3 separate regions of the Homo sapiens genome follow, and all the other regions are linked to region 1. Evidence: fine-mapped expression QTL. A gene starts in region 1. Each other region holds a variant in brackets. All regions are shown on one strand. Distances are between the middles of the regions.

Evidence for each region. PIP is the estimated chance that this variant, and not a neighbour inherited with it, causes the effect. A credible set is the group of variants that fine-mapping cannot tell apart.
Region 2: its variant is the best candidate, but not a certain one, in a credible set for the expression of NT5DC4 in blood mononuclear cells (TOPMed, PIP 0.86).
Region 3: its variant is the best candidate, but not a certain one, in a credible set for the expression of NT5DC4 in blood mononuclear cells (TOPMed, PIP 0.71).

The regions. Positions count from the first base shown.
Region 1 is chr2:112,719,298-112,722,060 of GRCh38, reverse strand. NT5DC4 (5'-nucleotidase domain containing 4) reads right to left here and starts at 1,041. Exons shown (of 17, transcript NM_001393655.1): 1 at 908-1,041; 2 at 170-243; 3 at 1-75. The coding sequence starts at 981.
Region 2 is chr2:112,804,319-112,807,081 of GRCh38, reverse strand. No RefSeq gene overlaps it. Among named protein-coding and RNA genes, the nearest start is that of IL1A, 21 kb to the right of the region's middle. RefSeq lists enhancers at 1,095-1,434, 1,082-1,582, 1,665-1,774. The variant G/A (reference allele first, on the strand shown) is at 1,209.
Region 3 is chr2:112,698,968-112,701,730 of GRCh38, reverse strand. No RefSeq gene overlaps it. Among named protein-coding and RNA genes, the nearest start is that of NT5DC4, 21 kb to the left of the region's middle. The variant A/C (reference allele first, on the strand shown) is at 1,393.

The sequences.
Region 1 (2,763 bases):
GCGGGTACCCAATGCACACCAGGCGCTCCAGCAGCAGCTCGAAGGTCAGGGCCTCATAAGCTGGGGACTTGTAGGCTGCAGAGGCCCGGACAGAATCAGGGCTTTGGTGCCCAGCTGCCCACCCCTGCTCCCTCCAGCTCCCAATACGCTGTGTTCCAGCCCTCTCTACCAGCCAGAGTGTAGTCCATGTCGAAGCCAAAGCAACGAATCTTCCCCAGCGCCAGGCTGCGGTTGACAAAAATCCTGGGGAGAGAGAGGAGGATGTTGGCATCAGTCCACCAGCCCCCCAGAATCCAAGGCCCAAGGACAGAGGGGGTGGAAACCCCGCAGAGGAGGGCAGAGCACCCCCTGCAGCTGCAGAAAGCACAGGGGAAGCAGGTCAGGCCAAGCCAGGGCCCTGCCTGGACCCATGTGTGTCTGAAGGCAAGTGTGAGTGTGCATGTAAGCATGTGTGAGCATGTGTGCAAGCGTGCATCTGAGTGTGTGCGGGCAATCAGCCGCTTGCTGTCCCACCATGCAGGCATGTTATAGGCATCCAACCCTGTAAGAAAGTAGGTGCAGTTGTTGGTGTGAGGGTTGTCACCTTCTGAAATGGGACCCCAGTGTCCAAATTCAGAGATGATGTGTTTGTCACAATTGGATAGCACATGTCACTGTGTCCGTGGTGAAGGGGAGAGATCTTCGTGGAGGGAAGGAAGTGAAGAGGACCTCCCGCCGGAGTGTGTGTGGTCAGTTCCCTGATGGGTTGTTACAGCTATGGAAGTGCGTCCCTTGTGAGTGCAAGTGTACGTCTGCATTTTGGGAGTCCCCATAGCTGTGTATTTAAAGGAGCCCCTGTGTGCTGCTGTGGCGTGTGGGGTGTTTATGGGCTGAGACCCCTGGCCCCCACCCCAGGTGCCCATCTCACCGCTGGTGCCAGTCCTGCTTCGGGCCTTGAGGGGAGACCAGTCCCTCCGGCTCTCTCCAGTCTACACTGGCCATCGTCACCCAGAGTGAGGAGGAGGCAAGTGTCCCTTCCTCAGCCTCCTGCACACTATCAGTGGGGCCCAGCCACTCTCCTCTCCCTCAGAAGCTTCAGGCACCACTGACCCAGCTGGCCCCACCCTGTGCTCCCATCTCCCCCGAGCCCCTTTGAGGGAGGAGTCAGCCAGGACAGGCTCTGGTATCCCATCCTTTTCTCTAGAGCAAAAGCAGCAAGGATCTAGGAAGAGCAATTCATGTCCACTGCACCCTCCTCATTCCTAGGGCTTATGCATCCATGGACCTCAGCGGCCTGGAGAGTAGCGGAGAACCCAGAATGAGGCAAATGACGGGATACAAAGTCAGGAGGCTCCGTACTGTACTCATGATAAAAGAAATAACTCAGTACTCTTGCTTTATGCACAATTCTGACACATTTGGTTATCAAATTTCCCAGCTCAAGGCCATTTAGAGAAGACATTGCTAGAAGCATGCCAAGGGCTATAAGAATTGGGAAGATAACTGGGATCTCAGAATGGGGGGGTGGCAGAAAGTACAAAAGGAAGTGTCAAAAAGCAGAACCACTGGGGCCATTTAGTGTAGAGTTCTAAATACTCCCTGAGGGCCCATACCACTGGCTCCACAACCAAGCATGTGACTTCCATTTGGAGCGGTGACCTGGATCATCCAGAAAGACTTAACTGAAGTGCCAGGCCCTCTTTTAAAAAGAAAGACAAGGCTGGGCACAGTGGCTCACGCCTGTAATCCCAGCACTTTGGGAGGCCAAGGTGGGTGGATACGTGGTCAGGAGATCAAGACCAGCCTGGCCAAGATGGTGAAACCCTGTCTCTACTAAAAATACGAAGAAAAAAAAAATTGCCCTCTTGGGAGCCTGAGGCAGGAGAAAAAAAAAATTAGCCTCTTGGCAGCTTCTCGGGAGGCTGAGGCAGGAGAATTGCTTGAACCCAGGGGTTGGAGGTTGCAATGAGCCGAGATTGCTGCACTCCAGGCTGGGCAACAGAGTGAGATCCTGTCAATAAAAAGGGAAAGAAAAAGGAAGAAAGAAGGAAGGAAGGAAGGAAGGAAGGGAAAAGAAAAGAAAAGAAAAGAAAAAGAAAGAAAGAAAGAAAGAAAGAAAGAAAGAAAGAAAGAAAGAAAGAAAGAAAGAAAGAAAGAGAAAGAAAGAAAGAAAGAAAAAGAAAGAAAGAAAGGAAAGAAAGAAAGAGAAAGAAAGGAGGGAGGGAGGGAGGGAGGGAGGGAAGGAAGGAAGGAAGGGAAAGGAAAGGAAATGAAGAAAAGGAAAGGAAGAAAGAAAAGGGCCTGGCGCAGTGGCTCACACCTGTAATCCCAGCACTTTGGGAGGCCAAGGCGGGCAGATCACTAGGTCGGGAGTTTGAGACAAGCCTGGCCAGCACGGTGAAACCCCATCTCTACTAACAATACCAAGATTAACCAGGCATGGTTGCGCATGCCTGTAATCCCAGCTACTCAGGAGGCTGAGGTGGGAGAACCACTTGAACCCAGAAAGCAGAGGTTGCAGTCATCCAAGATCGTGCCACTGCACTCCAGCCTGGGCAACACAGCAAGACTCCGTCTCAAAAAAAAAAAAAAAAAAAAAAGACAGACAAGTTTACAGTCGGTTTCAGCACTTTCTCTCTAAAATGGCTAAACTAAACTAAATGAAGGTGGCACTCTTAAAAGGATAAAAGTTATCTGGAACAACAACAGAAAAACATATCCATGGAAGAGCTCCTTCCTTGACAAAGCCAGGTGAGCAAGCACAGTTGTGTGCTGCGGAACGAT
Region 2 (2,763 bases), 85 kb before region 1:
TTAATCTGCAAGAGTCCTTTCCAAGACCCTATACCTAATTTTGTGTTTACAATTTTATATTTGTTTTCTTAAAGAAGACCACCAATATAAACTATATCCAGCCTTCATGATAAGTACATAGGAAACTATGCAAATAAGGGGGAAAAAAAACAAAGAAAAATACCTAGTTTACTAATGGTTCACTTCTGAATAGCACATATTCATAATGATACAAGCACTCATTACTAGTCTAAGAAAATGAAGATATAATTGCATTAGGAAGATCAAGAGGTAGGAAATGTGGATGTGTGTGGTATAGACTAGGGCAGGACAAAGAACCTAAATCCTCATTTTCTAAAGATAATTGTTAATACGTAAAACTCAAAATTCAAGAAGTAACAGTAAAAGCGGTCATTAAGAAACAAGCACTAAACACCAGATAGGAAGCGAGAGATGGGGGAAGAGGGCAAGAATCTGATTATTTTTTGCAACAAATTTTGTAAAACCATTTGACTGTTTACATGTAGAACTTGGATCTTTTTTAAAAAACACAAAATAATAATACTATTATTTTTTAACTGGATTTTTGAAAAAGAAGATAAAAGTCTCATTTTAGTAATTAAAACTCATTCCAGGTTAGTCCACTCAAAACTTATATTCGAAAATTAAAACTTTGGGAGGCTGAGGCAGGCAGATCACCTGAGGTTGGGAGTTCGAGACCAGCCTGACCAACACGGAGAAACCCCGTCTCTACTAAAAATACAAAATTAGCTGGGCGTTGTGCATGCCTGTAATCCCAGCTACTCGGGAGGCTGAGGCAGGAGAATTGCTTGAACCCGGGAGGCAGAGGTTGCAGTGAGCCGAGATCACACCATTGCACTCCAGCCTGGGCAACAAGAGTGAAACTCCATCTCAAAAAAAAAAAAAAAAAAAAAATTAAAACCTCTGGAAGTTGAGTTTGCAGATATTCATTATGCTCATTTTTAACTTGTATGTTTGGAAAATGTCATGATGAGAATTGAGGTTGGGGGATGAGAAAAAAAGAAAAACATCAACCCCACAGCCCATTCAATTTTCAGCCCGACCCACAGCTCCGGGGAAGGGCAGCAGGTCCATCCTTCACTCTTTCTTCACCTCTTTCCCCTCCTTCTGGCTCTTCCACCTCTAAGTTGGAGCCCAAGAAGAGGCACTGGGAAATGGAAAAGTCTTTTGTACGTGGTACTTGCCGG[G/A]GAAGCTGCCATGAAGACCTGGCCCCACGGTGGGGAGGGAATGCCCAGCTGAGGCCTCGTGCCCATGCTAGGATAGACTCGTCCAGACATGTCAGGTGGTCTGACAGGGCAAGCAGCAGGAAGTCATGTATGAGTATGAACTGATCTGTATGCAAGGGCGGGGAGAACACGCGGAGGAATGGGGCGTGAGAAAACAGCACAGTACGTTTCTTTAGCAGCTGTCTCTGCTCAGCCATGGGAGGTCACAGAGAAAGAGGCTTGGAGGCGTTATTTTCACTGTGAGATGTGAGTGTAAAAAAGTGCCCAAGACACAGTGAGTACCAGGGAGATGCCCTCTTTCCTACCCGAATGCAGAATGGCCACAGGCCTTAAAACACACACATGGGTCCTCAGAGGAGAGAGGCCTCCACAGTGGACACCCGCATTCTCCCCTGGTCAGCAGCAGCAGGGCGAGTGCTGGGCCATCATGAAGCTTCACAGGCAATGAGCTCTCAGCAATAACAGGAACAGTGCCTGGGGGACTGTAGCTGCAAGACCGATTTTCATGTAAGATGGCCTCTGAGGACTCCGAGATACACCAGGCTGAGACTAGCTGGCAGCTCCAAGTTCTTGGTCAGAAGAGAACAGGAACTAGGGAAATTGGAATTACTGTTACTACAATTCCTTTACATCCGCACAACCATGAGGTCCAGAGAGTCTCTCTTATTTTTTTTTTAAAGACAGGGTCTCACTCTGTCGCCCAGCCTAGAGTGCACTGGTGTGATCATGGTTCAGTACAGTCTTCACCTCCCAGGCTCAAGTGACCCTCCTGCCTCAGCCTCTCAAGTGGCTGGGACAGCAGTTGCATGCTACCAGGCCTGGCTTTTTTTTTTTTTTTTTTTTTTTTTTTTTTTTTTCGGTAGAGACTGGGTCTCTCTGTATTGCCCAGGCTAGTCTCGAACTCCTGGGCTCAAGTGATCCTCTGGCCTCAGCCTCCCAAAGTGTTGGAATTACAGGCATGAGACACTGCACCCAGCCAGTATAGTCTTTTAACAGCTTTATTGAGGTACGGCTAACATTGAAAAAACTACACAAATGTAAAGTATGCAATTTGATAATTTTGACAAATGTACACACCAGTGAAACTATCACTACAGTCAAAATAATGAACATATCCATCACTCCCAATTTCCTCACGCCCCTTGGTAACCCCTCTCTCCCAACTCCCTGCCCCCTAACATCAGACAACTACTGATGCATTCTGTCTCCATAGGCTCATTTACATTTTCTAGAATTTTACATAAATAAAATGACAGAGTATATACTCCTTCATGTATGGCTTCTTTCAGCCCAATTATGTCAAGATTCATGCTTATGGCTGTGCGTATCCTTAGCCCATCTCTTTGTCTTGCTGAGTAGGATACCATTGCATAGACAGACCACAGCTTGCTCATCCATTCACTCTTGACAACGTTGAATTGTCTCTGTTTTTTGCAATGACAAATAAGGTTGCTATGTACATTCCTGTATAGACATTTGTAAAAGCACAGCATTTCATTTCTCTTGGGTAAAGACC
Region 3 (2,763 bases), 20 kb after region 1:
ATGACAGTTTACCATTGCCATGGCAACATCTGGAAGTTATGACTCCTTTTCTAGAAATTTCTGAATAACCCATCACTTAATTTGTATATAAAATACAGGCCAGTCATGGTGGCACATGCCTGTAATCCCAGCACTTTGGGAGGCTGAGGCGGGTGGATCACTTGAGGTCAGGAGTTCAAGACCAGCCTGGCCAACATGGTGAAATCCCATCTCTTCTAAAAACATAAAAAATTAGCCGGGCGTGGTGGCACATGCCTGTAGTCCCAGCTACTCAGGAGGCTGAGGCAAGAGAATCGCTTGAACCAGGGAGGCAGAGATCGCTCCACCGCACTCCAGCCTGGGCGACAGAGTGAGACTCTGTCAAAAAATAAAATAATAATGATAATAAATAAAGTACGTATAAGTATAACCGCAGAACTGCCCCTGAGCTGCTGCTCTGGGCACATTGCCTATGGGTAGCCGTGCTCCAGAAGAAGCAGTTCCTCTGCTGCTGCCCTTCACTACCGCATCTATAAAAGTTGCTGTCTCACACCACTGGCTCACTCTTGAATTCTTTCCTGAGCAAAGCCAAAAACCCCCTCTGGCTAATCTCCAATTTGGAGGCTCACTTGCCCTGCATCAGAAGCTTAAGAAAAATCAGGATATTTCAGTAGCTTCAAAGTACCTCCCCCAAAATACTTGTTAATTACAAGGGGGAAAATAGAAACTTTACAGTGGAGTAACCAGCTGGACACTGTCTTAGCCAAGCAATCAGAGTTAATATCATGTATCCTGACATGGTACACTGGTAGAAAAGCACATTACTTCTGCATTATTCTCCCCCCAAATCCATAACCTTCATATAACCATGAGAAAACATTGAATGGACTTATATTGAGGAAGATTCTACAAAATGCCCAACCATTACTGTTAAAAACTGTCCACGTCATGAAAAGCAAGAAAAGACTGAGAAACTGTGACAGATGGGAGATTCAGAGGATATCATTACTAAATCAAAACAGGATCCTAGATTGGATGCTGGACAGAAAAAGGACATTAGGTGGAATACTAGGGAAACCCAACTGAAATCTATGTATTAATTAACTCCACTGAGTCAATGTTACCTTTCTGACTGAAAGTCATTGTACCATAATTCTGGAGGACAGTAGGGGAAGCTGAAAGAAGGATTTAAGGGAACTCTCTGTACTATCTTTGTAACTCTTTGGGTCATAAATTATTTCAAAATTAAAAAAAAAAATTTAAGCAATCATAATTCAGAAGGCAGTGATGAAATACACCATAAGCAAAACCAAAAGCATGTGACACTGTGGGAAGAGGAACTTACAACTCGTAACACAGACAAGAGTGAATCTCCCTAATACATAAAGAGCTTTGAGAAAAACATCAATAACC[A/C]AATAAGAGAAAAATGAACAAACAATTCAAAGAAAAGGAAAACAACTGGCTCTTAAATGTATAAGATCATCAAAATCTCTCATAAAATAACTGCAAATTAACACTACAGATAATTTTCACCTATCACATTGGCAAAAATCCAACTAGTTGATAATATTCTCTGTTGGTGAGTCTGTGGAGAAAGAGGAACTTTCAAACATTATTCGTGGGAATGTAAATGGATGCAACCACTTCTGGAAGGCAATCTGACAGCATCTATCAAAATTAAGATAAATCAGCCAGGTGTGGTGGCTCATGCCTATAATTCCAGCACTCTGGGAGGCAGAGGCGGGAGGATCTTTTGAGCTCAAGAGTTTGAGACCAGCCCAGGCAACAGAGCAATACCCCATCTCTGCCAAAAATGTTTAAAATTAGTTGGCTGTGATGTAGTCCTAACTACTTGAGAAGCTGAGGTGGGAGGATTGCTTGGGCCCAGGAGTTTGAGGCCATAGTGAGCCACGATGGTGCCACCGCACTCCAGCCTGGGCAACACAGCAAGATACTGACTCTACAAAAAAAAAAAAAAAAAAAAAAGATCAATCCTTTCTTTGACCCATTCCACTTTTACACTTCAGATTGATTTGTACAAATCCAAAATGTCCACATATATAAGGCTGCTCATGGTAACACTGCTTATAACAGTAAAATAAGTAGCATATATCCATCAATAGAAGGCTGGTTAAATAAAGTTAAGGCCCCACAGTAATGCAATACTTTATACACATACGACTTTGAAAAGTGAGGTTACCAGGGACTGGGGGGAGAGGGAAACAGGGAAATGCTGGTCAAAAAGTACAAAGCTTCAGCTATTCAAGATGAACAAGTCCTAGAGATCTGCTGTACAGCATGGCACATATAATTAACAATACTGTATTGTATACTTAAAATGGTGTTAAGAGGACAGAGCTCATATTAAATGTCATTATCACACCCACAAAAAAAGAGGAAGAGAGAAAACTTTTAGATTTGATGGTTATGTTTATGGCTTTTTTATGGTGACAGTTTCATGGGTATATATTTATTTTCAACTCATCAAGATGTACAAACTGAATATGTACAGCTTTTTGGCATGTCAATCATACCTCAATTAAAAAAAAAAGAAGAATGAGGAAGCTTTCTATCTACTAGTAAGGAAAGACCTCCAAGATTTACCAACAACTGTGGGGGAAAAGTTTGCAGAACAAATAGTATCTACATTCTGCATGAAAAAAAAAAAGAAGGGAGTAACAACAACAACAAAAATAACCCCATTAAAAAGTAGGCAAGAGATATGAACAAACACTTCTCCAAAGAAGACATACACACGGAGCCAACAAACATATGAAAAAAATG